Regions from separate parts of the Homo sapiens genome. Here all the other regions are linked to region 2. Evidence: fine-mapped expression QTL. A gene starts in region 2. Each other region holds a variant in brackets. All regions are shown on one strand. Distances are between the middles of the regions. Region 1 overlaps RAB5C (RAB5C, member RAS oncogene family). Region 2 holds the start of VAT1 (vesicle amine transport 1). Region 3 holds the start of LOC124904007 (a long non-coding RNA gene).

Region 1 (10,292 bases), 890 kb before region 2:
AGAGCCAGAGGTTGGGGTGACCGAGGGTGGAGGGGTTGTGGGCAATGGGTTCGTGGCTGTCACAATAATGCTGTGATAATGCTGTGGTTTCCCAGCAGGGAGGTGGGAGCGGGGAGGGGGCTGCAGCCTGATGAGAGCCAGCTGAAGGAAGAGCTGCCTCTCCCTTCCTAAGCCCCTTCCCAAGGTCTGCCCCACCGCCCAAACCAAAGACCACTCCGAACAAAGTGAGGATGTGGATGCTCTTGCTGGGTCCGCTGTTCCGCAGGAGGGAAAGAAAGGGTAGCTGCACTGACCCCACTGTCCCCATATACAAGGGTTGGGGGGCAAGAGCATGTGGCTACTCCCAGCAAGGGAAAATGGGAGAGCAGTAGAAAGGGGAGGAAGTGGGAAGAGCAGAAGATCATATATATTAAAAAAGTGACTTAAGACTTAAAATTGAATTAGTATTTGTACAGAAAGGTGCAGGTGGAATGACTCACTCCGGCCTATGATCAAAATTATATGGAGAAATCATGGTGGACCCCTCCCCCTGCCCCCCCAGTGGTGGCCCGAGTCGTTAAGTGCGATTGGTTAGAGTGGATTCCAGTCGGGTCATTCAGGCGGAGGAGGCGGGGGCAGCGGGCAGGCAAGGGGGGCTCAGTTGCTGCAGCACTGGCTCCGGCTGGCTGGGTTGTTCTCCTGGAGGTCCACACCTCGGTTTCGGCCTGGAGCACCAGTTGCATTCTGGGGCTCGTTCTTGGGAAGCTTCTTAGCTGTTTGGGAGGGGGAAAAGTGCATTTGTTGGGGGTACCCCAATAACTCTCCCAGTTCCACTGGAGCAGATTCTGGCCTTTATACCCAATCAGTGGTAACTCACATATTGAGGGCTTCTGTGTGTCAGGTGCATTCTGATTGTTTTCAGGAAACTGCGGCAAAGTAAGGTTAAATAACTTGCCCAAGACTACAGAGCTAATGAGTGGTAGAGCCAGGATCTGCAACCCAGGAAGGAAGATTCCAGAGCCAAATGAGCTAAAAACTCCTAGGCAGTGGGTAGGGGTAGTGATGGCAGGCTCTGAAATGGGTGGCAGGCTACAGGCTCAGAGAGTGAAATGTTGAGACTCTGGCCCAGGCTTCAGGAACTTCTCGGGTGAACAACCAACATCTACATCTGGGAGTCAGGTGATGATGAAAACAATTTTATCAGAAGGTTAAAAGTGGTGAAGGGGGCTGGGCGCAGTGGCTTACGCTCGTAATCCCAGCACTTTGGGAGGCCGAGGCGGGTGGATCACGAGGTCAGGAGATCGAGACCATCCTGGCTAACACCGTGAAACCCCGTCTCTACCAAAAATACAAAAAATTAGCTGGGAGTGGTGGTGGGCACCAGTAGTCCCAGCTGCTCGAGAGGCTGAGGCAGGAGAATGGCGTGAACCTGGGGGGCGGAGCTTGCAGTGAGTCGAGATCGTGCCACTGAACTCCAGCCTGGGTGATAGAGCGAGACTCCATCTCAAAAAAAAAAAAAAAAAAAAAAAAAAAGAGTGGTGAAGGGACCCCGCAGGCCCACTCTAGACCAGCAGACAGGTGATATGCCCTTGCTGTGGTGGAGAGAGGAGGGGAGGAGAAGCAACTGACCTATTGCCATGAAGATTTCGTTCACGTTCATTGCAGTCTTTGCTGATGTCTCCATGAACAGCAAACTGTTGTCGTCTGCATAGGCTTGTGCTTCCTGGTTTGGATGGAGGTGAGAGGAGGTGAGAGGGAAATGTTGGCAGGGGCCAGGGCCCAGGGCCCAGGATACAAACCTTCCTTATTCGAGCACCTTATCATAATAGAGATCAGCTGGACACACACAGGAGTTTTCAGGCCTAAGGCTGCCCTGATCTGGGTTTCCCCGCTCATGTATATCACCTCTCAGCTCACAATCACTAGCAGATGTCTTACCCGGGTTTCCCCAGGTCCACCCTGCCTTCTTGCTCTTCAAAATCACTAGGCTAGGAAATACTTCTAGAAAGTTAACCTACAAATACACTTACATGTTTGCACAAAAGCACAAAAGTATGTGGATGTCTACTGCAGCACTGTTTTCAGTCTTTTGCTATTATTAGGGATTGGTAAAAAATTATCATATACAGTATGTATAGCACACTGCCATCAATGTAAAGAAAGGGATTAAAAAACACGTGCATATTTCTGGAAGGACAAGAAACTGGGGAAATTAGAAGAAGAGAAGTTGAGTTTCTAGGGTTAGCAGAGACTTAAGTATTTCTTTCTCAATAAGTTTAATTAAAAAGTCAACTTACAAGAAAAGAGAAGTAGAAGGCTAGTGATCCATATATACACATACCCCTACCACCAAAGAAAGAGAACCAGGGAGAGACAGGTGACGGGCAATTCCTTTTAGGCCCATGCTTTTTTTATTCTTTTCTTTTTTTTTTTTTTGAGACAGGATCTCACTGTGTTGCCCAGGCTGGAGTGCAGTGGCACGATCACTGCTCACTGCAGCCTCAATCTCCTGGCCTCTAATGATCCTCCCCACCTCGGCCTCCTGAGTAGCACACCACCATGCCCAGCTAACTTTTGTATTTTTTTAGACATGGGGTTTCGCCACATTGCCCATGCTGGTCTCGAACTCCTAAGCTCAAGTGATCTCCCGCCTCAGCCTGCAGAGTATTGGGATTACAGGTGTGTGCCACCACACCTGGCTGTTTTTTTTTTTTTTTTAAAGAGATGGGGCCTCACTCTTGCTCAGGCTGGAGTGCAGTGTTGCAATCACTGCAATCTTAAACTCCTGGGCTCAAACAATCCTCGTGCCTCAGCCTCCTGAGCAGCTGAGACTACAGGTGCGTGCCACCAAGCCCAGCTAATTTTTAAATCTTTTGCAGAGACAGAGTCTTACTGTGTCGCCTAGGCTGGTCTCGAACTCCTGGCCTCAAGTGATCCTCCCACTCCAGCCTCCCAAGGCACTGGGATTACAGACAGGAGCCATGTTAGGCCCATGCCTGAGGCACGAGAGGACAGCAGATGGAAGCTTCCCTGTTGCCTCCTAGCATGGCCCTTCCCAAAGCCCCTGAGCATCCCAGGCGAGGCCGGGGGGAGCTGCTTACTCCACTCCTTCCCCCAAGTCTGTCATCTCCCCACCTGGAATTCCACGGCTCTCTTGCTGGCCAGGTCTGCCTTGTTACCCGCGAGTGCAATGACGATGTTGGGGCTGGCCTGCCTCTGTAGCTCCTTCACCCAGTTCTTGGCCCGTGCAAATGTATCCTGAGGAGACAGGGACAGAATGTCGAAGGGACAGAGAAGGCATTCTGCCCAGGGCCACCCATTAGAGACTCTCAAGCTGGCACAGCCAAATTATCTAAGACATTGCCACCTAAAGATTCTGATGCAATGTCCCCAAACAGGAAATCTGCCCACCCCCCACCCAGGAACAGAGGGTTAAGCGGCCTGAAATCAGGGCTCTGATAACCCAATCCCTGGGACTTTGAGAAGATGAAGGGCAAAGGAAGAAGCAAGGGGAAATCTTTACTGTGTTGGTGATGTCATAGACCACGATGGCAGCCTGGGCCCCCCGATAGTACATGGGGGCCAGGCTGTGATACCGCTCCTGTCCAGCTGTGTCCCAGATCTCAAACTTGACTGTTGTGTCATCCAGGCAGACAGTCTGTGTGAGGAAGGCCGCTGTAAGAGAGAAGGAGCGTCCATGGGCAAGAGCGAGTTGGAATCCACCCCACACAATCCCACTGTTGCTTCTAGGCTCTGGCACTCAGAAGCCCACCACTGAGATGGGCACAGAGAACCCTCAAGCCAGGAGCCAAAGCAGGCCTGAGTGGGGGGTGGAGTTTGGATTTTTATGTATGTGTCTGGGGGACGGGGTCTGCACAGGCTTTGCAGACCCAGCCCAGGCAACGGCAGGAGAAGGGACTCCTGCATGCACTGAGCCATCTCAGGACCACTCTCTGAAGAGCAACACAGCAGGGGCAAGAGAGGGAAAGCCTAGGGGAAGCCTACTCCAAGCACAGAAGGGTGAGCGCCCTCAGACCTCCTCCTCCGCCACTCAGAGAACAGACCAGCAGCTAGGGACCGCTCCACCCCTCAGTTTGCTCCAGCCCAGGGGTGTCACTGACCTTGGGTTTCCTAAGGACATTCTCACACACTTAGCTATGCTGGGGAAGTACACACTGTTCCACCACCAGGCTGAGGCTGGGTGGCCGGCTTCCCAACCACCCCTACCACCTCCAGGCACTCCAGCTAGCCACCGCCCCTAGCTCTGACCCAGACCTGTTCCTGTATGGCCACCCTGTGACCTGACCTTCAGTCACTAAGAGGTGACTCCTTAGGGGAATGCAGGGTGCCTGTACACATGCTTCA[AAGG/A]AGGAGTCCAGAGCTGGGACAGACAGCAAAAGGCCCCTTTGCCCCTGGACCCAGCAGAGAACCCAGGACAGCCATGTGTAGAAGGCTGCTTTCCTGGTCTGCCCTCCCCCAGCTCACTGAGGGACATGGGGCACTGCCTCACTTCCCCTCTCCAGCTCCTGACCCAAATGCTGAGGAGGCAGCAGGGAGACTGCTGACATGGCCCATTTTGTTTCCAGCTGCCTAGAAACCTCCTACCAAGAGAGTAGAGAAAGGATGACTCAAGGCCAAGGCCAGCGTTGGCCCCTGCCTCTTGATGTGTGTGTTAGCCACGGAGGCAAGAGGCCGAGGCCAGACCCTCACTCACATCCTAAATGCTGACCACTGGAAAATCAACAACAGGCTGTGAGCTCCAGAAAGGGTAAAGTCAGCTTCAGAAACACCCACCTATCACCCAGCTCCGACTCACCAGGCTGTTCCTTCTTCTGGAAGTGGGAAAGGCCAGGGCACATGGACCACCCATTATAGTAAGAAGGGGCCTCAAAGATCCAGAGTCAGCTCTCCCTCCATGAGGCCAGGGCAGTGAAAGGGCCTCAGCCAAGGCCACACAGATCAAGAAGGGGCAGAAACAGGATGGGAAGCTAGCTTTCCACTCCCAGCAAATGCTTACTAGCGATGCTTGAGGGGACTCTGGCATGGAGACCAGTTGCTGGGCTCAATTCCAGGGCCCAGGTGAGGAAGTGGGGCTGCCACCACAGACGCATTTAGTCCCTAATGCAGGCAGGCAGCTTCCCATCTCCTCAAGGTCAAAGCATTTCTTTGGCAACCTTCAGGCCCCTCCCCGACTCCCTCATGCCCACTCACCTCCAATTGTGCTCTCCTGGTACTCGTGAAACTGTCCCTTGACAAAGCGGAGGACGAGGCTGGATTTGCCTACCGCAGACTCCCCCAGCAGAACCAGCTTAAATTGACAGATCTTGTTCCCAGCAGCTGGTCCATTGGGTCGTGCTGCGCCTCCCCGACCCGCCATTGCCCGTCCAGCTGTAGTGGTCCAGAGAGCGTGCGGGTGGGGACTGGTGCTATGCAAAGAGGCACTTAGTGGGGAGGGGGACCTCCAACTGTAAGGGAGAAATGAGAAGTACTGAGTTAGTTCAGAGGCCGTCACCCGCTGTGTCCTTCTTAAATTACAGATCTTTCCCTCTGGCCTCACTGAAGACCTAGCTGACTGCTTCCCCTCACCTCACCTCCCTGCCCTCCCCACTAGAGGTCAGGAGGCCCCACTGGGCTATACTAGATGTCTACCGGCTCTACCACCATCTGAGCTGTAAAGAGGAGAATGGTCTCCCAACTTCAGGCTCATGGTTCTGAGCAAACACATTGACTTCTGGATCCCAAATATGTACATTCACCTACAAATAAACACACACAGGCGATGAATGAATGTGTGACAGCCTGGTGACAGTTAAGTCAACAGGCTTTTGGGGCAAAATTAAAACAAAACAAAACAAAACAAAAGCTCAGGAAGACACTAGGATTTAGATCAATAATGAAGTTCCAGTCTGGTAGCCAGGACCACAGTGGTGAGGCAGACAGGGGCCCAAGAGGTCCTGGTAGAAAGCTCCTCAGAGAAGGTGCTTGGCCAACCTCATGGCCATTCAGGGACCAGGGCCTGGCCAGCACAAGTTGTTATTAACATAGCCATTTTTCTCCTGCCACCTTCAGAAGGACTGACCGACTTTCAGTCTAGGGCTGGACTGTGTGCCTCTGTGCACCAGAATCAAAGCAATGTTTCACTCTCTCATCCTGATCCTTCTTCCCTAGTTCTCTCATTTTTGATGGGCCAAAGTCTCGCACCCATTAAAAAACAAAACACACACAGAAACAAACACATAGTAAAACACACACCGATACACACACACAAACACACACAGAAACACACACACCGGAACAAATACACACTGAAACACACACACACACACACAAAAACACATGCCAACACACACACAGAAATACACACCAAAACAGACACCAAAACAAAACACACACCGAAACAAACACACACAGAAACACACACCAAAGTCATAGCTCTGCCACAGTCAGCACAGCTACCAACTTTCCCTTTTTCAATAGAGACCTCAGTTCCATTCTCTACTGGCAGAGATGGGGCGATGGAGAGAAAGAAGAGGCAGGAGGTGTGGGAGGGCAGAGACCAAGTCCTGCATCCCCAACAGCTGGTGTTCCAGTCCCGACATCTGAATCACTTGGTTAGTGACAGCTTCAGAGGCTCAACTTTTTGTTTTTGTTAAGTTTTGGAATTGCAGACACATGAGGAGCCTATCTCTAGAAGCCTCTAGAAGACATAAGTGGATGTCTCATCAGACATATACATCTGATGTCAACAGACATCAGAATATATACAGAATGTTTTACAAACAGGTCCTGTGAGTAGGTATTAAGTACTGAACACTGTTCAGCATTTGAACCTGGGTTGGAAAGAAAAGGTTTTTATTAGGCTGCCCTTTGCATAATGGAGTCTAAGATCCCAGGGAGAGCCCCGATCTGCCCCTGAGCAAGGGAAGTACATTCCCTCATGGTTAAGGGACAGCAATGTGGATGAACAGGAGGTATCTGTGGGAAGCAAATGGTCCACATTCATGCAAGAAGCTGACAGCAAAGGGCTTGTTTTGTTCAACCTCAAATCGTTTTCCACATCCAAGTTCTCCCAGCAACTCATTTAAAAAGTGAGCTTCAGGAAGAATGATTCACTAGCCAGAAACAACAGTTTCCTTTCTGGAGAGAACCAAAGGAAAAGAGGTTTGAAATGGGGCCCACCTCTTCCCCAAAAGTACAAGGAAGGAAGTACGGGGTGGTGGGTCTCAATTAGCAACCAGAAATACCATGTAAATATTTCAAAGTTATGTCATTTCAATTTTTCATAGTTTAAGACGCTTTCTCATTTCACCTCAGTCAATGAAGAGACAAGGTCTGTGCTTTCTGCTTCTTAGAGATGCCTTCCTCACAGTGCCTATGTGCATACTAGGAACTCAAAGAGTGCTGATGGAAGGAAATAATTTTTTTTTTTAAAGAAACAAGGTCTCACTGTGTTGCCCAGGCTAGAGTGCAGCGGTGTGATCACAGCTCACTGCAGCTTCCAAGATCCTACTGCCTCAGCCTCCAGCAGGTATACACCACCACACCCAGCTAATTAAAATTTTCTTTCTTTCTTTCTTTCTTTTTTTTTTGCAGAGATGGAGTCTCACTGTGTTGCCCAGGCTGGTCTCCAACTCCTGGCCTCAAGCAACCCTCCCGCCTCAGCTTCCCAATTGCACAACTATTATCTCCTTCAAGCTTTACGACAACCTCCATTTTTCAGATAGATAATTTAACATTCATATATTAAATGTCCTGCTCATGGTCACCCAGCCTACAGGTGACAGAACCCCCCAGACCCACCATAGACATGATGCCATCCTCCCTGCTGTGGAAGAACAATGGAGGCAGTGCCTGCCCTATGTTTGGTTTAGGGCTGCTAGGTGAATGAAACTCTCTTTTTTTGTGGCAGCAACTTTGCTGGTCCAGGAAGGTCTAGCTCTAGCTGGCTCTAGCAACAGTCACAGTAATCTTGCAGTTTCTGAGTGCCCTCAACAGTGGGAGGAGCCGCCCAGAGCCAGGCAGGGCGACAGCAACAGAGGGAAAACCACAGTGGAATTACAAGTTGGTTATTACCATGAATCCACGTGACACAGAGTCTTGGCTGAGCAATGGTCTGTGGCTGGGGCACTGGAGGAGGAGGTATGAATGGACTGGGAGATGGTAATAGAAAACCAAGTCTCTGATTCCAAAAAAACCAAAGCAGCTGGTGCTTAGGGTACCGAGCTGGGAAGTAACCAGCACCTACAGGTCGAGAAAAATACAGGTAACAGATCTAAGTCTTGTCACTACCAAACCACAGGGTTAGAGGAACAGAATGTGATTTTTAAAAACAAGCCAGAAGGGGAGACAAATAACTCTCCTGCAGTGGTTCTCAACGGTGTCTGTACATTGAAGTCATCTGTGCAGCCAGCCCCTCGAGATTCTCATGAAGGTTTGGCACAGAGCCCAGCATCTGCAGGTGAAGCACACCCACTGAAGCACAGCCAGGGCTAGAGCATCTGGCAGAGAGAGAGTGAGCACAGGCACTGGCTTTCGGCACCACAGATGTGACTGTCTCCTGCCACTTCTGAATCACTTTGTAGAAGCCACCTGAGCTGAGCCTCAGTGTTCTCATCACTAATATGGGGCACACCAGGGTTAATGGCAGTGTTTGCCAGCTGTCTCACACACATCATGTTGAGTAAACAGTAGCTAAGAGTACTGACAGGGTTATTTGTAACACTTTCTCCAAGACTGTTGGTGAACAGACTCTGGCCATCCCAATGAACTGAGACAGGCTCTCCCTGGCATGAACTAGCTGGTGACATGTTCTGCCTGGTCACTGATCCTGCCTTCCAGAGATACCTGAGCAGGCACACCCAGCACTTTTTACGGTCTGTTGCCTAGTGGTTTGCCTGGCCCTGCTTGGTGATCAAATGAGCAGTGGTGTCCAACCTTTGCAGTCAATAAAGCCCAAGGAAGCCAATTTTGCTAGGAAGGGCGCACGGAGATATGAGGGTGTCTAAGCCAGGGGAAGGCCAGACCGAGAGCCCCAGGAAGCATTATACCCTCTCCTCCCAAGCCTGGGAAACTGAAGACATGGCAGGTAGTAAAGGTGAATGCATTCACTGAGCTGTCCTGCCTCCCAGGGATGTGTGTCTTACTGGCAATCTTTCTTTTTGAACCCCTGGCAAAAATTATCCACTTGTGCAGTCAGGTGATGGAATTATAGCCAAAACTGACATAGTTTTCAAAGTCTTCTTTGAGACAAAAATCAAATTCTCCATAAGAGCTAAAGTTACAGTCAAAGTTGATTTTTTTAAATTAGCCAACGTGGTGGTACACGCCTGTAATCCCAGCTACTTGGGAGGCTGAGGCACAAGAATTGCCTGAACCCAGGAAGCAGAGATTGCAGTGAGCTGAGATCGCGCCATTGCACTCCAGCTTGGGGCAAAAGAGTAAGACTCTGTCTCAAAAAAAAGTTGACTTTTTTTCACAAGTACAATGGCCGTGCTGGAGCTTCAGATCTAGGGAGAAAGATTCTCCTTGCCATGGACCCACCATCCAAATCAGAACCCTGGCTTGTTCAGAGGCCACTAAGAACAAGCACCAGTCCCAACCTCATGTCTTCCACAGGAAAGGGGAGAGAATGTATAAGGACTTGGAGTCACACTATTTTCCTATTAATACAATGCACATGAAAGCGCAGAAGGGATCTAAGCTCCTAAACACCCTGGCCCTGTGCACAGGCACTTCTGGGCCAAGGATGGAAGAGAAAGAGAAAGAAAAATGGGACACTGTTCTTCCCTGCTCCGGGGTTCCCTCTGCTCTGGACACTACAGGTCAGTGGGTCTCAAATTCTTTTTTTTTCTTAAGTTTTTTTTTTTTTTTTTTGAGACAGAATCTCGCTCTCTCACCCAGGCTGGAGTGCAGTGGCACGATCTCTGCTTACTGCAACCTCTGCCACCCAGGCTCAAGCGATTCTAATGCCTCAGCTTCTAGGAGTAGCTGGAACTATAGGTATACGTCATTACACCCGGCTAAATTTTTGTGTATTTTTTGTAGCGGCGGGGTTTTACCACGCTGGCCAGGCTGGTATCAAACTCCTGCCTCAACCTCCAAAAGTGCTGGGATTACAGGTGTGAGCCACCTGTAATTTTTTTTTTTTTTTTTTGGAGATAGAGTCTCACTGTTGCCCAGGCTAGAGCAGTGATGCAATCACGATTCACTGCAGCCTTGACCTCCCAGGCTCAAGTGATCCTTCTATTTCAGCCTCCAGTCAAACTCTTCTTCACCAGAATCACCCAGGGCCTTTAGAAAATACCCTGACCAAC
Region 2 (10,761 bases):
CGAAACTCCATCTCAAAAAAAAAAAAAAAAAAAAAAGAATGTAGAATTTACTATCACTCATATGAAAAGTTGTGACAGAGAATGAAAAGAGCTGGTACCCAAGAGTCAGCAATCTGAATGCAGCATACAGGACCATTCCTAACCCTGATCGTCTACAGAGCACCTGAGTCCCTACCCCTTCTTCATTCAAAAGCCCTGGCCTCTATATCCCACCCCTTAGACCCTCCCTCCTGCCCTCACATGCTCTCTCCATCCCTGGCCCACTAACTCACCATAGGTGACGACTTTGCCCATGGGTTTCAGGAGGTTGTAGCCCTTGGCAGTATCTGACCCACCCAGAGGGTCCATGACAATGTCCACTCCTGTCATAGAGTAGGGGAACCCAAGAACAACATTAGGATCCACAGATCTGGAGCTCCCCTCCCTGTCCTGTGCCTCCCTACCCCCTCCCATATTATGCCCCCCACCTTTAGGGGAAATCTTCTTGATCTCATCCACGTAGTCAGTCGTGTGATAGTCGATGGGATGTGTGACCCCATTCTCCTTCAGTGCCTCGTGCTTGCTGGCCGAGGCCGTTCCGAACACTGTCACATTCTCCACTGTACGGCACAGCTGCACGGCAGCCATACCCACACCCCCTGCAGCAAGACACCCATAAGCAGGGGATATGGAGTTGCCCTGGCCACCAACCACTCCATTCTAGCCTCCCAGGGACTCAGCCTGTCACCTTCATTTTGCCTACGCTCATTTTAGGGCCGTGTCTAATTTCCATGACTGAGAAGTGGTGGGGAAGGTAGCTAGAGAGGTGGGGGTGTGGGGTGAGGGCACGTTGCTAAGGATAGCACACCAGACTAGACCTGGTGCCTGAATGTTACCACGGCAACTACACAGCAGAGGCCTCTGGGAGCCACAGGCCAAGGCAGCCTGGTGTTGCCATGACAACAACCCAGACAGGCTGCAGGGAAGGGGCCTGGAAGGAAATCTGGGTGGGGTAAGGGGTGATAAAGTGAGGGGACCTGTCACCTGCAGCCATGTGTACCAAGACGCTGTGGCCAGGCTGTAGGTTGCCGAAGTCAAAGAGGACCATGTAGGCTGTAATGTAATTGACGAGCAAGGCAGCAGCTTCCTCAAAGGTCATGGCCTCAGGAATCAGGAAGGTCTGGACCGAGGGCACAGTCACCTCTTCCTGCCACATCCCTGACCGGTTCAACACCATCACCCGGTCTCCTGCCTTGAAGAACAGAAGAGTATCATTCAGTCACTCATTCATTCACCCACAGGCTATTTACTGATTTCCCCCTAGGTACAAGGCTACCTTCTTCCAAATGAAGTAGCAGGAGAAGCAGCAATAGTCATGGTAATAATAATAATAATAACATCATCATCAACAACAATAACAACTCACCTTTACTGAGTGCTGACTGAGGGCCGAGCCCGATTTCAAGTGCTTTATATATAATGCTTAATTAACCCTTACATCAGTTCTTTGAGGCAGATACTATCCTTATCATCTTCTTACAGATCTTACATGTCACTATTGTGTAAGATCCCTGAATGCAAGAAGCTTACAGTTAGGGCAGCATGAAGTATTGTGGAAAAGATCAAACTGCTGTGGTTACAAAAGCGGTCTCAACTGTTTACTGACTGTGTGACTTCGGATGCATAAAAATTACTTAATCTTTTTGAGCTCCACTTTTCCAGCTCCAGTTTTCTTATCTGTCAATTAGGGCAGTTTTTCCAAATGGAAAAAAAAAATTTTAGCACAATGTCTGGCACATAATAAGCACTTAATAATGTTAGCTAACAATAATAATAATAATAATATAATAGCAGCAAGGAAGTCACACAACCAAAAGAAGACGGCACTGTGTGGTCAGGGCCATACCAAAGTGCAGGCAAAGTTCTCTGAGCGCTTACAGCAGGGTGTGGTCACCTCGGGAGAAGTGTGTTTGAGCCAGCACTGGGAGCCCAGAAAACATCTTCACTCAGAGATGGTGCAGGAGGGGCAACAGACAAGAAGGGCTACAGAGGCCTACGCAGCAGTAAAAGGCTTCCCCCCCACCCCCACGAGAGCCTCTGTGCAGGAGGGAAAGGGGACAAAGATAACAGAACCTTTCTCTCCAGCTTAGCAAGTGGGGTCAAGGGAAGGGCAGGGAAAAGGAGGGAGCGTCAGGAGAAAAGACTTCTCTGCGCTCTCTGAAGAGCATGAAGAGGGAGGTGTGGGTGCTGTTCTGGGACAATCTGGGTCTGTCTTGATCCCTGCCAGGAATGATGGGAATTCTGTATATTAACAAGAGTTAGGGTCCATGGGGAAGGGGGATGGGACTGCCACTTACGCCCTTTTTCATGTCCTCAAGCCCCCACACTCCACTGAATACGAGAACTGAGGGCATGCTGGGGTCTTTCCTTCCAAGTTCTGGCCTGAGATGAGGTCTGGAGAACAAGAACGGAAGCCCTCCACCCAGGGACTCAGGACTAGCAGATACAGAACAACCCAGGAGAGCTGCGAGGAGTGCATTGGTCATTTAGGGTCATGGCCAGTCCCAGATTTGACCCAGAACAAGTCTCACTTACCCTGGCTCATGCTAACCCTCAGGCCATCCAAATCAGGGCCATGACCCCTCCCCAACCCAGACACCAGGAAGGAGGAGGAGGGAGAGAGAGGGAAGGGCCCTCCCCGCAGAATCCAGGCTCTTACATCAGATTCTTGCCCTGGACAGGATATCCTGTATTTACCAGGCGGAAAGTGTATGGAGGGGAGGTGAGGTGGGTGGCCTTCAGCAGTAACATGAACTACAACTACCTCCCGAAAATATTCCTCTTAGACGCCTGCTCAAGAGTGGGATCATTTAGAAGTCAGTTTGAGGGTGGGGCCAGAGCTGAATTCAGAGGAAAGCCTTAAGGAGAAGCTGTTTGCATACAGGATGAATCCAACAAACCTGGCTCCAGAATTGGGCTGGCAGGTCTGCAAGAGGCTGCATCTGTGGGGCCTCTCATTGAGGGGTCTGATTTAAAAAGGAAACTCCTGGCCAAGCGCAGTGGCTTATGTCTGTAACCCCAGCACTTAGGGAGGCCGAGGTGGGCAGATCACCTGAGGTCGGGAGTTCGAGACCAGACTGACCGACATGGAGAAACCCATCTCTACTAAAATACAAAATTAGCCAGGCATGGTGGCGCATGCCTGTAATCCCAGCTACTCGAGAGGCTGAGGCAGGAGAATCGCTTGAACCCGGGAGGCAGAGGTTGCGGTGAGCCGAGATCGCGCCATTGCACTCCAGCCTGGGCAACAAGAGCGAAACTCCGTCTAAAAAAAAAAAAAAAAAAAAAGAAAAAGAAAAAAAAAAGAAACCTCTAAACAAATGGCGTGCTGAGGCCTCATCCCAGGTCTCTCAAAAAGCTGATCATTTTGAGCTCTCTGGTGTCCAGGGTTGTGGCCAAGATTAATGATAAATGAGAAGGAGAAACAGGCCTGCAGACTTGGCCAACCAGTTCAAGGCGCCGCACCTCTCCGTTCCAGTCCAAACCCCTGGCACTGGGGTTTCTGAAGTGGGGGTCCTCTGCAGGAGGAAGGCAGAGGTGGGTCCCCCCTTCCACTCCCCGCCCCAGGCATTCCCAAGGGCAGCCCCGGGTCGTGGCCCGAAGGCTGAGGGCTGAGTCACAGGAGGAGGAGATACTGCAGTCACGGGAGACACAGAGCCCAAGACAAAGATCGGATGACCCAATCCCGCCTCCCCCACCCCAAAATCAGATCGGCGGTGTAAGGCTGGTGGCGGTGGGGTAGCAAAGGCTCTCTCTCCTCCGTGATGGGCGTGTCTCGTCTCTTTGGCCTTGCTTTGGGAGGGGCCGCCTCACACCCCCACAGACCACGGGGCTGCATGTGACCAGGACTCTGGCACGGCCGCTGTGCCCCCGCCCAACCCCGACGACATAGCCCCTCAAGCTCCCTCGGGGAAAGGGGGCACTAACCGTCACTCATAGTCACAGACCACAATTACCCAGAGAGTGTTTGGTGGGTAGGGGTACAGGTGTGGTTTTAATGGGGGGGGGGGGGGGGGGTGGGGACGGTAGTGTGGTTGTGCGCATGCGCATGGGCACCTTATTGTTTTCCCCCCCACCAGCACAGCTTCTGGGCGGCGGCCACAACTAAAAATGGTTGGGGAAGGGGCGATAATTTCGTCTCCCCTCCCCACATAAATGCCGCTCTCCAGGAGCCCCCAAACACAAGTTCCTTGGCTACGCTTTCCACGCTCGTGCACCCAGGTCCGCGCCAGTTTCTCCCGCCCTGCCACACCCCCGGCGCTCGCCCACTCGTGCCCCACTGCCCAGTGGCCTGCGCAGCCCTGCCCTGCCCTACGCAACCCGCTCACCTTGCGGTCGCTGACTCCCTCGCCCACTGCGATCACAACACCCGCGCCCTCCATGCCCGGAGTGACAGGCAGAGGCGGGAGACGGTCGTACAGCCCCTGCCTAGCCATGAGGTCTGCGAAGTTGAGCCCGCAGGCCCGCAGACGCAGCGTCAGCTGGCCGGGCCCAGGGGCCGGGGGCGCTGCCGGCCGGCTCTGCAGCTTCACCTTGTCGTAGCCTCCAAAGCCGGTGAGCACTAGGCAGCGCAGCAGTGGCGGCGAGGCGGCGGCGGCGGCGGCCCCTTCGGAGGCCGCGGGATGCTGGGGGTCGCTCGCTGCCTCGGTTTTCGGAGGCGGCGAAGAGGCGTCTTCCCCGGTCGCTGCCTCGGCTACCTCTCTCTCGTCGGACATGGCTGGGACTCCCGACGAGAGCGCACAGCTGGATGGAGAGTGCACAGCTGGGGAAGGCGGAACGCGTCGGGAAGAGCCGCGGCTGCGGGATCCAGCGGGAGGGGCGGGGCGCCGGGCGAGGCGGGGCCTCGCGCTCAGCCTTAAAGGGCCAGGGCCATAGTGGCGCAAGCTGGGAGAGCACGAAAAGGGGCACCAGGAACGTCTGTGCTCTTGGGATCAAGCCGACTGTGATTTATTTATTCATAGTAAACCTTATTCAAATTAAAAACTATTTTAAGGGATAGGCCTGGCGCGGTGGCTCACGCCTGTAATCCCAGCACTTTGGGAGGCCGAGGCTGGTGGATCATTTGAGGTCAGGAGTTCAAGACCAGCCTGGCCAACATGGTGAAACCCCCGTCTTTACTAAAAATAAAAAAGTTAGCCGGGCGGTAGTGGCGCGCGCCTGTAATCTCAGCTACTTGGGAGGCTGAGGCAGAGGAATCGCTTGAGCCTGGGAGGCGGAGGTGAGCCGAGATCGCGCCACTACACTCCAGTCTGGGCAACAGAGTGAGACCCTGTTAAAAAAAAAAAAAAAAAGGGCCGGGCGGCGTGGCTCACGCCTGTAATCCCAACACTTTGGGAGGCCGAGGCGGGTGGGTGGATCACCTGAGGTCAGGAATTCGAGACCAGCCTGACCAGTATGGTGAAACCCCAGCTCTACTAAAACTACAAAAATTAGCCAGGCATGGTGGCAGGTGCCTATAGTCCCAGCTACTAGGGAGGCGGAGGCTGGAGAATTGCTTGAACCCAGGAGGCGGAGGTTGCAGTTAGCCAAGATCATGCCGCTGCACTCCAGCCTGGGCTACAGAGGGAGACTCCATCTCGAAAAAAAAAAAGGCCGGGCGCGGTGTCTCACGCCTGTAATCCCAGCACTTTGGGAGGCCGAGGCGGGCAGATTACGAGGTCAGGAGATTCACCTGGCTAACACGGTGAAACCCCGTCTCTACTAAAAAATACAAAAAATTAGCCAGGCGTGGTGGCAGGCGCCTGTAGTCCCAGCTACCTGGGAGGCTGAGGCAGGAGAATGGCATGAACCCAGGAGGCAGAGCTTGCAGTGAGTCGAGATCGCGCCACTGCACTCCAGCCTGGGCTACAGAGCGAGACTCCGTCTCAAAAAAAAAAAAAAAAAGTTAAGGAACAGTCCCAAAACTTGAACTTACATCAGATTTGGAGTTAACTCATATCAGATTTGGAGTCAGCCACCTGTGGACTGGAGTCCAACTACATTGTGTCTCAGGCTCTGACATCTAACCCAGGCAGGGATGAGACTTAATTCACTGTGGTCTTGCAGTGGCAAAGTAGAAGCATGGAGACCAAGCCTTTAAAACTTTCTGACTTTGGTGTTAACGTTCTGTTCCTCATTTTCCCTTCTGTAACATAGTGATGATGCTGCGTGCTCTAGTTATATTTATATTTTTATTTTTTTGATACAGGGTCTCACTCTGTCACCCAGGCTGAGCGAGGTGGGGCGATCACAGCTCCCTACAGCCTCAAACTCCCGGCTTCAAGCAATCCTCCCACCTCAGCCTCCTGAATAGCTGGGACCACAGGCATGTGTCACCACGCCCGGCTAACTTTATGTTTTACTGCTCTTTGCAGAGCAGGGCTACCCCATAGGCAGCGTGCCTAGAGTGGCCAAACCTAGCTAAGTTTTGATTTTTTTTTCTAGAGAGAGGGTCTCGCTAATGTTGCCCAGGATGGCCTCAAACTCCTGCACGCAAGCAAGCCTTGGCCTCCCAAAGTGCTGAGTTTACAGGCGTGAGCCACCGCGCCCAGCTTCTAGTTATCTTTACAGAATTATTTGCAGCATATATTATTGACTCGAATTGCCTCGATATAAAAAAGCACTTTTTTTTTTTCGAAACTCTATTGCACAAGCTGGAGTGCAGTGAGGCAATCTCGGCTCACTGCAAGCTCCGCCTCCCGGGTTCACGCCATTCTCCTGCCTCAGCCTCCTGAGTAGCTGGGATTACAGGCGCCCACCGTGCGGGTTTCACCGTGTTAGCCAGGATGATAGTCTCGATCTCCTGACCTCTTGATCCGCCCGCCTCGGCCTCCCAAAGTGCTGGTATTACAGGCGTGAGCCACCGCGCCCGGCCTATTGTCAGACTCTTAATCAAGCCTGACTTTTGGGTTTAGCTCTGGCTCCAGCAGAGCAACTCTGGCGGTTGGTTCTTTCTCTTCCTTATCTCCTTGTCCCCAAGCATCCACCAGAGGACGCAGCTCCCCCAAAACTTTCCACCCAGTGCTTGGCTGGAGGAACTCAGTCCACGCTTCTCTGCTAGTCTAGGCCGGCGGTTAAGTCAATGTAACCGGAGACCCGGCTGCCCGTTGCCATGGGGACGGAAAGCTATGATGTCACCACCGTCCGGGTGGGTGTGCTGGGGTTCACCCTCCCATTTCCCCAAGACCCCCTGCCAGGACATAGGCGGACGCGGGAGAGAAAACCAAAGAGGCTCCCTCCTTCCCCTTAGCATCTCTCTCCCGCCGTGTTCAGGAAGTGGATGGCTGCCCCAGCTCTTGTCCGCACTGGTACACCTGCGTGCACGCGTGGGTACACAGCAGGCCCGAGCTTCGCGCTTGTGCCGCTCATATTCTACCCCTAAGAACTTCGCTTGAACTCTGACCTGCCCTTATATCCGAGAAAGTCAAATAAGCCCAGTTCGGCCTGTCCCAAACCGGCAGGGGCCCCTCAGACCACACCGGCGGGCTGGACCCCGGCTCTGAGGCCTCTGTTCCCAGGGCTCCGCCCAGATCTTCTGGGCCCCGCCCCCCGGCTGCGGGGGTGGGAGGAGGGGCCGGGGGGGCGCGGCCGCCTGGCTGGGGGCGGGGCGGAGGGGGGGCCGCGGACCCGGGGCGGGGGCTCGGCGCGGGCCCGCGAGATGCCGGTGTTGGCGGCCCGAGCGGCTGCAGTTGCAGGGGCGGGGGAGGCGGCGGCGGGGCCCGGGAGAGGGGTGGCGTGGGGGACCGGCGCGTAGCCGGGACCATGGAGGGGCAGAGCGGCCGCTGCAAGATCGTGGTGGTGGGAGACGCAGAGTGCGGCAAGACGGCGCTGCTGCAGGTGTTCGCCAAGGACGCCTATCCCGGGGTGAGGGACCTGCGTCTTGGGAGGGGGACGCTAAGGCTGCTGGGGGGTGGGTGACAGGGGCCCTGGCGACGGATGGGAATGGGTACTCGGGTAACCAGGGACAAGAGACAGGGGGTCGGAGGACGCGGGGAGGCCTTGAGGGCTCAGGAAGGACTGCAGAGGATTGGGGTGGGAGGAATTAGGGAGCAGGGTGAGATAGATGGGGTTTGGGAGAACCAGAGCATCCGGGAGGGAGGGCGAGGGGAATGTCGGAGGTCCTGGGCAATGGAGAGGGGAAGAACTAGGGGGCTGAAGGGACCAGAAGGGAACAGGAGGAGGTCTGGGAGCTTAGCAGAGATTCTCCGGGGGGGGGGGGGGGGGGGCAGGAGCTCCCGGGATCTCCCCTTTGCCCAATCCCAGACCAACTTGTGTCCAGGGGCTGGGCTGGACGGGGTGTGGGAGTGAGGAGGGCATTTATCTGGGGTGAGGACTTGGAGAGATGATCTCATCTGGATCCATCCGTGTCTGCAGAGTTATGTCCCCACCGTGTTTGAGAACTACACTGCGAGCTTTGAGATCGACAAGCGCCGCATTGAGCTCAACATGTGGGACACTTCAGGTAGCCAAGTCCCTGGGGGTCACCCTGACTTCCAAGGCGGCCCACTCTGTCCCCTCCCTTGGTTAGACCCTTAGGTTCCAGGTAAGCCCAGCCCATCCATCCAATTCCAACAGGAAGGGAAAAATCAATATTCTGCTAAAATCCAGGGAAACTGAGGTAGAACTTGCAGAGCCTGACAGAAACCATGTCCTGAAGGAGAAAGCCTAGGATCTGAGCCCCTCAGCTGGGTCCTGCCTACCTGGGAAAGTTGGGAAGGAATGGCTTTTAATTTGGAACATGTTCCTTCAGAGATAAGACTGGGTTTAGAAAAGACATTTAGAGGCCAGGCACGGTGGCTCACGCCTGTAATCCTAGCACTTTGGGAGGCTGGGGTGGGGGGATCACCTGAGGTCAGGAGTTTGAGACCAGCCTGGCCAACATGGTTGAAACTCCGTCTCTACTAAAAATACAAAAATTAATCGGGCGTGTGGCACGTGCCTGTAATCTCAGCTACCAGGAGGCTGAGGCAAGAGAATCGCTGGAACCTGGGAGGCGGAGGCTGCAGTGAGCCGAGATCATGCCGCTGCACTCCAGCCTGAGCGATAGAGCGAGACTCCATCTCAAAAAATAAAAAAGCAGAAAAGACATTTAGAATGTCTTGAGTGAGGGGTGGTCAGGAGGCTGTTTCTCTCCATTGAACTAGATAAATCTGAGGTCAAGTCCCAGGAGAATGGGAGAGTGCTCTCCCTGCCACTGCTCTTTTCCTCCTCCCAACATAAGGAGGGTTTTTATTTTTACAAGAGTTCCCTTCAGGGCTTTAGACTGCCAAAGCCCAGAAAGCACATGCAACATTTTATGAGAATGTCTATAGATTTTATGAGCTTCTCAAAGGGGTCCAAACCTCAGTCAAGAATAAAAATTATTACTTTTTAAACCACTAGGGAAGCAGAGAGCCGTTTCCCACCATGTGACCTCCCTTCTGCCCGCTCCCCCACTTGGGAAACCCAGACTCCATGATGGGTATTAATGATGGGTATTAATGGTTGCTCTTTTCCATTCTCTGCTCCCAGCATCCCTTGACCAGGATCTGTAAGGTCTCCCATTCCCTTCCAGGCCTCCCATCCACTCAGGCCCCTCATGCCCTGTCTTCCTTCAGGTTCCTCTTACTATGATAATGTCCGGCCTCTGGCCTATCCTGATTCTGATGCTGTGCTCATCTGCTTCGACATTAGCCGACCAGAAACACTGGACAGTGTTCTCAAGAAGGTGGGAGCCTGGGGAAATAGGGCAGCTAGACTGAGGGGGACCAGACCACCATGGTCCTGACATAACATGGGCCAGGAGGAGGGAGTGATGGCTGGGGTATGGCCATCAGCTGGTTAGCGAGTGAAGCTCTCATCCCTGCCACCCCTGCCTCCAGCCCCCATCCCTCCCAGCCACCCCTTTCCTGAAAGTCCTCAGAGCTGGATACAGCAGCTAGGGGAGGTGGGGGAGTGAAGGGAGAAGCACTCACAGGATTCCTTCTCTGCTCTTCCAACTCCTTGGCAGTGGGAGTCCCAGATGGAGGGGATGGGATGGGAAGCCTGATCCTGGAGCTCAGGAAAGCCCTGTGGCCTCCTCTCCAGGCCCCAGTTTCCATGACAAAAGCCAGGGGTGAATGGACAGAAGTCAGCTAGGGCAGCCCCAGTTCCCAGGTGGGGGAGGGGAGGGTGGGATAAATTTGTTCCCAGGAGAGAGTATGGGAAAGGCGAGTGGGAATGGGAAGTTTCCAGGCTGGCAGACCCTTCATAGCCACTGAGGGAGAAGAGTCCACAGGCCCACGCCAGCCCTCTCCTCCCCGCTGCTTCTCTCTCACCCCATCCTGCTCTCAAACCAAGCCTAGCATTCTCACCTCCTTCCTCATGTGGGAGAGTCCTGAGGGATACATGGTTTCTGCGTGCTTGAGGAAGAGAGGGCACACTGCTGGCATGGCACAAAGGCTCACGCTGTGCCTCCCTCCACCCCTCCACAATTCTCTTTTCTTCTCCTACATAGTGGCAAGGAGAGACTCAAGAGTTCTGCCCCAATGCCAAGGTTGTGCTGGTTGGCTGTAAACTGGACATGCGGACTGACCTGGCCACACTGAGGGAGCTGTCCAAGCAGAGGCTTATCCCTGTTACACATGAGCAGGTGGGACCCTTGACGTCTGACCTCATCCCAGCCTAGACCTGTCACCTCTGCCCCTTCAGTCTCTGATTTGAAAACACCTTACCTGGCTCATCCTTTGTTCTGGTCTGTGACCTCTGACCTGATCCCTTGACTGC
Region 3 (11,051 bases), 360 kb after region 2:
CCAGGTTCAAGCGATCCTCCCACCTCAGCTTCCCAAGTAGCTGGCAGTATAGGCATGTGCCACCATAACCGGCTAATTTTTGTATTCTTTAGTAGAGATGGGGTTTCACCACGTTGGCCAGGCTGGTCTTGAACTCCTGACCTCAGGTGATCTACCTGCCGTGGCCTCCCAAAGTGCTGGGATTACAGGGGTGAGCCACGAGGCCCAGCCCATAATTTCTAATCTCGTGGCTAATGTTAGTCCTCCAAAGGCAACCTAGTCCCCAGGCAAGAAGGAAGTCTGCCTTGGGAAAGGGCTGTTAACATCTTTGTTTTAAACTATAAAATAAAATATAAACTAAGCTTCTCCCAAAGTTAGTTCAGGCTATGCTCAGGAATGAATAAGGACAATTTGGAGGTTAGAAGCAAGATTGGGTCGGTTAAGTTAGATCTCTTTCACTGTCTCAGTCATAATTTTGCAAAAGCGGTTTCACAAGCAGTCAATACCAGGAGCCTCTGAAGACCACCATAGCAGTCCTCAGTGCCAGGCAAATCCACTAAAATAGAAACACCAGGCTTTGCCAAGAAGGGAAAACAAAAAGAAAAACAAAACAACTTTATCGCACATTTCATTAGAATTTCAGGGACAGGCTGGGTGTGGTGGCTCACAACTGTAATCCCAGCAATTTGGGAGGCCCAGGTGGGTAGATCACTTTGAGGCCAGGAGATCAAGACCAGCCTGGCCAATATGTCGAAACCCATCTCTACTATAAATACAAAACATTAGCCAGACATGGTGGCACGCACCTGTGATCCTAGATACTCCAGAGGCTGAGGCACAAGAATCACTTGAACCTGGGAGGCAGAGGTTGCAGTGAGTTGAGATTGCATCACTGCACTCCAGCCTGGGTGAGAGAGAGAGACTCGAATTTCCATGGACAGGCATTCATGTTCAGGAGAAGGGGGGTCTGGGCACTGGAGTTGGAGGAAAGAGCCTCAGTAAAGGTACAGAAACGTTAAGCACAGGGCAATCAGAAAATGAGGGGACCGGTTCATACATCTATGACCCATCCAGCCACCTGGGAAGGTAGGATCTGGGCCTTAGCCTGTCCCAGAGAATGCAGTAATGCCCTGTCCCAGAGAATGCAGGCTCCACGTGGGCTCCTTCCTACTGTAATTGCCCCCATTACACCCACATCCATCCCCTCACAGACTGGTTTATGTGCCAGACTCAGCCAGCGGGTGGAGCTTCTCCCGGGAAGCCACACCTCCACCTCCCCAACACGCAGCACCCCAGCCTCGCTCTGACAGGCTCTTCCTTACATCATGGCAGTTTTTCATCAGGGAACCACTGTCTCCACAAGCCAAATGCTGTTGTAGGCCAATCAGACTCTGAAATCCATGCACCTTTGTTAGCAGGTCATCGTGGAGGATGCACCCATCGAAGGTGGCCTTCCACCCCCGTCCTATAAAAAGAAGGCCACTTCAGCAAATAGAATAAAGAGTCTGACAATGTCTTTTTTTTTTTTTTTTTTTTTTTAACTTTCTTGTTATGGACCAATCAGTAACCATGATCACGACCACATTTGAGAATCAGGGCTCTTTGCAGCTGGGGCAATACTTCTGGATCGGGAGCAACTTATCATGGAGGACCTGGTATTAGAGGACACGTTGACAACATAGAATAATACAGGCAAGTACGATCAAGGCATTAAAAGTCCTCACATCAAGATGGACATGGCCTTCTCCCAGTCCATTCCACATACAGCATTTATTTGGCCGGCACTGCTGTCTATTTCTTCAAGAATGCATTTTCTCCTAATCATTCCATTTCAAACAGAGCCACGGCTTTAAATGCTTAGGTTAATTTCAAAAGAGGTGAGTCCCTTTCAGCATCTCATGGGGCATACTGTATCTCCTTTCTTTCTTTCTGTTTTATTTTATTTTATTTTATTTTTTTGAGACAGAGTTTCACTCTCGTTGCCCAGGCTGGAGTGCAATGGCGCGATCTCAGCTCACCGCAACCTCTGCCTCCTGAGTTCAAGCGATTCTCCTGCCTCAGCCTCCTGAGTAGCTGGGATTACAGGCATGTGCCACCACGCCTGGCTAATTTTGTATTTTTAGTAGAGACAGGGTTTCTCCATTTTGGTCAGGCTGGTCTCAAACTCCTGACCTCAGGTGATCCACCTGCTTCAGCCTCCCAAGGTGCTGGGATTACAGGCGTGAGCCACCGCACCCGGCCTGTATCTCCTTTCAAAAAGAGCTGCTGTCCTTGTCCACTTTGGGAAGCCAAGGAGGGCGGATCACCTGAGGACAGGAGTTCTAGGCCAGCCTGGCCAACATGGTGAAACACTGTCTCTACTAAAAATACAAAAATTAATTTACAATGAGCTGATGGACCCACCCGGGGTCAAGACAGTGACCAAGCGAAATGGGCGTGGGCGTCACGAGGTGTCTGCGGAAGGAAGTTGGAGGAGAGTGGTCCGAGCTCTTTTGAGGAAAGCCATTACTGTGAAGAGCGGAGCTTCAGCGGTCTGGCTGGGTCGGAGGCGAAAGCGGAGCCCATGAGCCCCCTCTCCCCCACTGGGGGGGGACTTCCCGGGGCCGCAGAGAGAAGTCCGACTGCGACTGCGAGATCGCGCCCTGAGGGGGCTGCCGCCCTGGGAGTCACAGCCCCGCCCCTCTCCCTGCCCTGTCAGTGGGGACTGGGGACAAACTACTTAACCTTCGGACTCTCAGTTTCCCCAGCTGGGAAGTGGAAACACCACTGCCTACCTCGTGGGGTGGAGGGAGCAGAAACGGAGCCGAGGGCGCGACCGCGGCTCAGTAGTCTGGAATGTGGGTCCCAGTATCCGACTAGCTTCCCCCGAAGGGGTCTTGGCTGTGATACCGAAGCACCTGAGCAACTGCGTTGCCTGCGGACAATACAATAGGAAGCATTTACTGTTTGGCCTAGGCTGTGTGCTAAGTGCTCTCGTCATTACAAACTCGCAAAGGTTACCTACAGAAGGAAACCTTGAGATGGAGGTTAAGCAGCTTAGGCAACAGAGCAAGACCCAGTTTCTACCAAAAAAAAAAATTTTTTTTTAATTATTATTATTATTTTTTTTAAACGGAGACTCGCTCTGTTGCCAAGGCTAGAGTGCTGGAGTGCAATGGCACAATCTTGGCGCACTGCAACCTCCACCTCCAAGGTTCGGGGTAGTCTCCTGCCTCAGCCCCCCGAGTAGCTGGGATTAGATCTTTTAGCAAGTTGGGCAGATGACTCATGCCTGTAATCCCAGCACTTTGGGAGGCCGAGGCAGGTGGATCACCTGAGATCGGGAGTTCGAGACCAGCCTGACACCAACATGGAGAAACCCCGTCTCTACTAAAAATACAAAATTAGCCAGGTGTGGTGGCGCATGCCTATAATCCCAGCTACTAGGGAGGCTGAGGCAGGAGAATCGCTTGAACACCCCTTCTCTGGTCTCATGGAAAAATGGTTTGGAAATGGAAGGGACTCATGACCTCAATCTTTACCTCCCTTGCAATTATTACCAGTGTACTCATTCTTGTAGGTTGTGTCATACCTTGCATTTGTGGATTTGTGCAAAGGCTTATAGAAACAGCTCTTACCAAACCCCTCTCCATTCTCCCCCACCCTACTCAGATAAACTCCTACTTCTAGAAACCAAGAGGAGCAACAAAGCCAAAATATATTAGAGGAATTTGAAGAGGAAGAACTATAAAGTCAGGAGGGGGAAAATTGCCAGAAACAGTAAGTTCCTCTTCAAAGTTTCCTTGGTCTTTCTTGCTCTATACGCAGCCCTTCCTGCTTAATCAGGAAGGAGCACTTGTTTCTCTGTTTAATGGGTAACTAGCAAACCTCTTACTTGGTAAACAACCCTTCCCGCCTAGTTGGTAATGGACAGCCTCTCCCTTCCTGCCTAATTGGCCTTATTCAATTTCAAGCACTAGTCAATTGGGTCAGCTTAGACTGTGCTGTCCAACTCCAGCAAATGGGGAAAGGACACAGAAACAGAAACTGTGTTAGGGATAAAAACCCCTGCTCTACCCGGCTTGATGTGCTCTTGGGATCAGTCAGACGCAAGCTGTACCCTTCTGCAGAAGTAAATGTGCCTTGCTGAGAAATTCTTTGTTTAAGTGGTGGTTTTTCTTTGCAGCACTGAACACTTGTTTCTAACACCTGGGGGGCAGAGGTTGTGGTGAGCCGAGATCTTGCCATTGCCCTCCAGCCTGGCGCCATGGCTCACATGGGAGGCTGAGACAGGCAGATCACTTGAGCACAGAAGTTCGAGATCAGCCTGGGCAACATTGGCAAAACCCTGTCTCTACAAAAAATACAAAAACTAGCTGGGCATGGTGGTTCAGGCTTGTCATCCCAGCTACTTGTGAGGCTGAGGTGGGAGGATAACTTGAGTCCAGTAGGCAGAGGTTACAGTGAGCTGGGATCATGCCATTGCATTCCAGCCTGGGTGACAGCCAGACTCTGTCTCAAAAAAGAAAAAGAAAAAGAAAAAAAAGTGGTGGAATCTCTTACACCAGTAAGGGGGTGTACCTTTTTGCATGCTTAAGATCTTCTATTTTCTTTTCTATGAGCTGACTGCTCAGATCCTTTCCCCATTGGCCTTTTTGAATTGTTGATCCTTTGTATTTGCATCCCTAACCTACTTGTTCTAGTCTATGATTTCAGTTACACATCCAACTTTTGTTTTTTTAAGATGGCTAACCAGTTGCCTCAGCATCATATATGGAGCAGCCCACCTTTTCATCAGTCTGAGATGCCACTTTTATCATATAATAAAGGCCTCATATATACTTAGGTCTATTTCTGAAACTTTCTTTTAAACAAAAGAGCCTTCTGGTATCATGGCTGTTTTTTAAACTTTTGATTGATTGTGTACCTACCTTTGTATACCTACCTTTGTGTACCTGTGAACGTGGCCTTGTCCGTGTGGTTAGCAAGGAGCATGTGTTCCATTCCTCCTCTGGCTGCCCTTCAACACCATCCACTGCTCACAATGCTGCCAGGGAAGCCTGGGCACCTCCAGAGGTGCCAACCTGACCATGCCAAGGCTGCCAACTCCAGGTGCTTCTAAGGTTTTCAGTCCTTGGGCACCAGGAGGCTGCCAGGTTTCCTGCCAGCTGAGGAGAGCAGCCTATTCAACTATTCAACCTATGCAACTCCAGGTCCTGCTATTTCTGTTTTTCTTGGCCCTGATTGCACTTCAGTTTTCGCCCTGTCTTCTGGAATGGCTCCTTCAAATTCCCCTTTTCATCACATCAGTTTTCACAGGTAGTTGAAGAGATCTGCTTGGAGAGAGATACCATTTGTTTCCCTATTTTCCTTTGCCTCCTCTCTGACTCCTTCCACCACCCCTGCCCCCTGCCCAGCCCCACCATTCTTTTCTCTCCCGCCTGGGCCTCTTCACAGTTACCAACCAAAAACTTTCACTTATAGCAACAGAAACAGAACTGTGCCAATCTGTGTGGCCTTGGTGGGGGAAGGGAGATTGTTTGGCTGCAGCAGCCAGCAAAGTTAGTGTTCCATATGGCTCCTTTTTTTGTTTCTGTTTTTTTTTTGGGGGGGGGCGGAATTTCGCTCTTGTTCCCCAGGCTGGAGTGCAATGGCATGATCTCGGCTCACCACAACCTTCGCCTCCTGAGTTCAAGCGATTCTCCTGCCTCAGCCTCCCTAGTAGCTGGGATTACAGGCATGTGCCACCACGCCTGGCTAATTTTGTATTTTTAGTAGAGACGAGGTTTCTCCATGTTGGTCAGGCTGGTCTCGAACTCCCGACCTCATGTGATCTGCCTGCCTCGGCCTCCCAAAGTGCTGGGATTACAGGCATGAGCCACTGCACCTGGCTGTTTTTTTGTTTTTTTGATACACAGTCTCACTTTGCCATCCTGGCTGGAATGCAGTGAAGAGATCACGGCTCACTGCAGCCTTGACCTCCCAGGCTCAAGCAATCCTCCTGCCTCATCCTCCCAAGTAGCTGGGACCACAGGCGCGCATCACCACAACTGGCTAATTTTTTTTGAGACGAAGTCTTGCTCTGTCACCCAGGCTGGAGTGCAGTGACACAATCTCAGCTCACTGCAACCTCTGCCTCTCGGGTTCAAGCGATTCTCTTGCCTCAACCTCCCAAGTAGCTGGCACTACAGGTGTGCGTGTCCAGGTAATTTTTGTGTTTTTAGTAGAGACAGGGTTTCACCATGTTGGCCAGGCTAGTCTTGAACTCCTGACCTCAAGTGATCCACCTGCCTTGGCCTTCCAAAATTCTGGGATTACAAGTGTGAGCCACCACGCCCAGCCACCTGGCTAATTTTTGTTAATTTTTTTTTTTTTTTTGGTAGAGATGAGGTCTACCTATGTTGCCATGGGTGGTCTCAAACTCCTCCTCAAGCGATCCTCCCCCCTCGGCCTCCCAAAGTGCTGGGATTGCAGGCATGAGCCATTGCGCCAAGCCCATATGCCCCTTTAAAAAAAAGATATTTAGTAGAAATGGAGCATCTTGCTACAGTCTTGCTGCTCACAGTGTGGTCCCCAAACCAGCACCATTGATATCATCTGGGGGTGGGTTAGAAGTGCAGAATCACTGGCTCCAGACCTATTGCGTCAGAACCTGCATGTTAACAAGGTTCCCCCAGAATGCACATGCACATCAGAGTTTGGGAAGCATTCTGCTCTGGGACTTGATGACTGAAGGAGGGAGG[C/G]TGAGGGAGAGAGAAGAAGCAAATATGTTTTTTGAGACCTCAATTCTCACTACCAATATCTGAAACTTGGGGACCACATGGATTTGGATAACAAGTGATACAGTTATAACTCCAGATGTCTACGCTGGTGGCTGAGTGGGTCTTAGAACACTTTCTGGGGTTATAAAATACAGAATCAGCAAGTTGAGGCAGAAAGGCCTGAAGGGAGATGGCAAATCCGTGTGAGCAAGGCTAAGTCTAAAGACCCATGGGCCAGGGGTGCTTACTGAGAACAGAGTACGTGGCACCATTAGGGGCAGAGGATGGAAGCAAGCACATATGAAACTAGGCATGGTGGCATGCTCCTGTAGTCCCAGCTACTCAGGAGGCTGAGGTGGAGGGTCACTTGAGCTGGGGAGGTCGAGGTTGTGAGCCATGGTCATGCCACTGCCCTCCACCACGGGCCACAGAGCGAGACTTGAAAAAAAAAAGAAAGAGAGAGAGAGGGAGAGAGAGAGAGAGAGAGAGAGGGAGAGAGAGAGAGAGGGAGAGAGAGAAAGAAAGAAAAAAAGAAAGAAAAAGAAAAAGAGAAAAAGAAAGAGAAAGAGAGAAAGAGTTGAAAATCTTGGAGGCCTTTGAAAACATAGAGAGACTGGACTTCTGTTTCTATGATCAGGGTGAGGTATACAGGTGGTCCCCAGTAGCCATGGACTGGGAGAGATGACACGGAGATACTACTTTGTGTAAGAGAAGAGTACATGTTTCAGAATCACAGGAACACCAATGTGTAATGAGCAGGCAGGCCGAGAGAAATGACAACGTATGTCCTTATAAAGACTTAGAGGCAAATGTTTAGAGCAGAATTATTCGAATAGCTTTGAACTGAAAACTACTCAAACGTCCATCAGTGGGTGAACGGATAAACAAAATGTGATATTCAGGAATAAAAACATAATGGTACAACATAATGGCACATGTCACAATGGGGATGAACCTCAGAAACATTATGCTCAGAGAAAGACATCAGTCAGACACAAAAGACCACATACTGTGTAATTCCTTTCATATGAAATGCCAGGAACGGGAACTCTAGACATAAAGTAGATCAGTGGTTAACTCAAGATGAGGGTGGGAGTGGGCAATGACTGTGTAGGGGAGGCAAAACTTTATCTCCTTAGGGTCCTTGCTGGGCCTGAGACTCAAACTGACATAGATTAGCAGGAGGAAAGCTATCATAAAAGCTGTCAATGTAAGTTTTACATGACACGGGAGCCCTCACAAGGAAATGAAAACCCAAGGCCACGATCATATATGTGCATTTGTTCTGGTTATTTTCTGCCTCCCCTTCCACTTGCCATTCTTCTCTCCCCTGCTCTTTTGTACTGCATAGAGCTGCATAAGGGTCGTGAGCCAAACAGCACTCCCTCTTGCTGCAGCTGGTCACAGGGCTGCCCCTGCTACTCATCCTGTGCCTCATGGGCAACATGTTATGCCCATGTCCAAGGTACAGAGAAGTGGACCCAGAGCCAGGGAGAGGTGATAGGGACCTTTGGGCGGGGTGGGAGGTGCTTATTGAGAACAGAGTCCATGTCACCATTAGGGAGAGAGCATGGAAGCAAGCACGTTTGACAATCCTGTGTCTGCCCTGTTTCTGGAGAGGCAGATGCAGACAGCAGGTCAGAGGGAATTTGACTGGACAGGAACTTGGGGGGTTGAGGGTAGCCATTGCATATAACCAAACCTGTTACACATTTCTTTGATATCTGATGTCATTGTGACATGATCTAGAAACCTCTGTCAAAATAGTTCCTAATGATACTAAACAACAACTGAGACTGTTTATTGAGTTTGTGAAATCAAGGAGTGGCTGCTCTTCTAGAAGCAGTGAGTTGATGTCTGTTCTAACATTGTTCTGAGACAAGGAAACCTTTTTATACTTTAATAGCCAGGGTCAGAATTTCTCAGATTGTATATTTGCATGTAGCACAGGAGATGCTCTTTTAATAAAAATCCAGAAATTTGTTGTGCACATTATTCAATAGAGAACAATATCAAATTAAACCAACAACAATGACACTTAACATTTGCCCAAAGCTTGGTAAATGTTGATGGTCACTGTGTACCTTCAGATAGCTGTGTACTCTAACAGAGAGAATGATTTCAAAATCAGTTGAAGAGAAAACGCCTCTGCCTGCCTGTACCTGTATATTACTGTCAATGTCAATCAGGAATGTGTGGGTTCATTCCAGTTATTTTCCGGCTCCCAATCTACTTGCCATTCTTTCATCTCCTGCTCTTTTGTACTGCATAGAGCTACAGAAAGTTAGTGAGTCAAACGACAGCCCCTCTTGGTGCATTTGGTCACAAGGCTGCCCCTGGTACTCAACCAGTGCCTCCTGTCCTCTCCCCTCCAAATCCCCCCTCCTTCTCAGCTATCAACTCTGTTAATCCTGGTGGTTTCCCTGGCTACCGTGACCCAAACTCTCATTCCTGAAAAGTCTAAACCCCTCAAGGCCACATCTTTCTCAAGTCAGGGTTCCTGCACTTGTCCATTCATGTCACAGGTGGACCTGGGAGTAACACGTGGCACCCAAACAGATCACCAGAGTTCACATATATTCCACCTGCCCTCCCTGCATAAGAGCACTACTCCCTCTTCCTGATGATGGTTCAGGGCCATTAATCCCTGCCAAGATGGTGACTGCTCCTGCCTGCTAGTTCAACCTGTCCAGCCACAGCTGTAGCTTGAAGGCTTGAAGTTCAATGGGACCCACTTCTGCTTCCACGCTTTCTTTCCTTTAATTTTAATTTTTATTTATTTGAGACAGGGTCTGGCTCTGTCACCAAGGCTGGAGTGCAGTGGTGCAATCACGGCTCACTGGAGCATCCACCTCCCAGACTCAACTGATCCTCCTGCCTCAGCCTCTGAAATAGCTGTTGTACAGATATTCGTCACCCTGAACAGGGCTTCACTACCTTGCCTAGGCTGTTTCTTTTGTGCTTTGTTTGTTCGTTCGTTTGTTTCGAGATGGGGCTCTGGCTTTGCCGCCTAGGCTGGAGTGTAATGGCGTGATCTCACCTCACTGTGGCCTCCTGGGCTCAAGCCATCCTCCCACCTGGGCCTCCCAAAGTGCTGGGATTACAGGCATGAGCCACAGTGCCCGGACTGAAGATATCCTTTAGAGAAAGAAGCAGCGGGTAGTTTTGCCAAGGCCAGACAAGATTTCTGGAGTTTGGAAAGGGTGAGAGATTGGGTCAGCAAAAGACACATTCTGATCTTTATGCTGGGATGCAATTTATAGATACAGGGATGAGACCCAAAAAAGCTGGGAGAGATTTGTCATCATGGTTGCAAGGCAACTGCCGGTGGCTGATCCCGTAAAGGATACACATACCTAGAACAGAGCCTAAAAAAGCATCAAGCATGAAGGGTGGAGCCACGATGCTTGGACTCGAGTTCTGCTCCTGTGCATTCCTCGGTAACTTAAACTACCTGTGCCTCGATTTTTCCTGGGGAAAAAAGGAAGTTTGTAGCCAGTACATTGGTGCCTGCCTTAAAGTAGAACTACTCCATGGGCTGAAGAGGAAGTTCAGCTGGGCGTAGTGGCTCACACCTGTAATCCCAGCAATCTGGGAGGCCCAGGCAGGTGGATCACCTGAGGTCAGGAGTTCGAGACCAGCCTGGTCAACATGGTGAAACCCCGTTTCTACTAAAAATACAAAAATTAGCTGGGCATGGTGGCGGGTGCCTGTAATCCCAGATACTCGGGAGGCTGAGGCAGGAGCATTGCCTGAACTCGGGAGGCAGAGGTTGCAGTGAGCCGAGATGGTGCCGTTGCACTCCAGCCTGGGTACCAAGAGCTAAACTCCATCTCAAAAACAAAAAACAAACAAACAAACAGAGTAAGTTGAAGTCCAGCCTGGGCAACACACCACTGGAATCCATCCCTTTGAAAGGTCATCACCCCTCCACAGCCAAGCTGAGATTTAAAGCCCTCCAAGTAAAGTCGAACATGTTCCCTACTTGGAAATGAATATTCTTGTTTTGGGTCCTAGGATACTCTCCATAAATCATGAACCTTATGATACTTAAAGGAGTAAGAAAACCTACCAACTATCCTAAACTACCCGGCGCAGTCTTTTCTTTCTAACCTTGCAAACAGGTTGTATCCCAGGAGAGGGAGCCCCATTCCTGGAGGTACTGCAATACCAGGTCGACGCGTGGAGTGGACAGAGCAAGCTCCTATTTCATCTCCCTGCTCCAAAAATCTATCTAATATAATTGTTCTCTGATAGAGGACGTATCAGATATTAAACTGATAAGAACAGATACTACACTTGATCTTAGCCAAAAGGACGAGAAGAGATGTC

Evidence for each region.
Region 1: its variant is fine-mapped to the expression of VAT1 in whole blood (TOPMed, PIP above 0.99).
Region 3: its variant is fine-mapped to the expression of VAT1 in whole blood (INTERVAL, PIP above 0.99).

What each region holds. Positions count from the first base shown.
Region 1 is chr17:42,125,147-42,135,438 of GRCh38, forward strand. It overlaps RAB5C (RAB5C, member RAS oncogene family), which reads right to left. Exons shown (of 6, transcript NM_004583.4): 2 at 5,191-5,444; 3 at 3,503-3,654; 4 at 3,115-3,237; 5 at 1,609-1,702; 6 at 1-752. The coding sequence starts at 5,356. The coding sequence ends at 637. Among named protein-coding and RNA genes, the nearest start is that of HSPB9, 7.5 kb to the left of the region's middle. RefSeq lists enhancers at 8,107-8,156, 8,727-8,776. The variant AAGG/A (reference allele first, on the strand shown) is at 4,345.
Region 2 is chr17:43,017,569-43,028,329 of GRCh38, forward strand. It overlaps VAT1 (vesicle amine transport 1), which reads right to left and starts at 4,817. Exons shown (of 6, transcript NM_006373.4): 1 at 4,368-4,817; 2 at 1,024-1,231; 3 at 468-638; 4 at 273-362. The coding sequence starts at 4,754. It overlaps RND2 (Rho family GTPase 2), which reads left to right and starts at 7,663. Exons shown (of 5, transcript NM_005440.5): 1 at 7,663-7,881; 2 at 8,392-8,479; 3 at 9,615-9,724; 4 at 10,493-10,627. The coding sequence starts at 7,780. RefSeq lists a silencer at 7,487-7,626.
Region 3 is chr17:43,376,370-43,387,420 of GRCh38, forward strand. It overlaps LINC00910 (long intergenic non-protein coding RNA 910), which reads right to left. Exons shown (of 6, transcript NR_027412.1): 2 at 4,904-5,291; 3 at 2,754-2,893; 4 at 1,302-1,444. It overlaps LOC124904007 (a long non-coding RNA gene), which reads left to right and starts at 3,381. Exons shown (of 2, transcript XR_007065762.1): 1 at 3,381-3,738; 2 at 4,703-4,799. It also overlaps the pseudogene RNU2-4P. RefSeq lists an enhancer at 10,580-11,051. The variant C/G (reference allele first, on the strand shown) is at 6,702.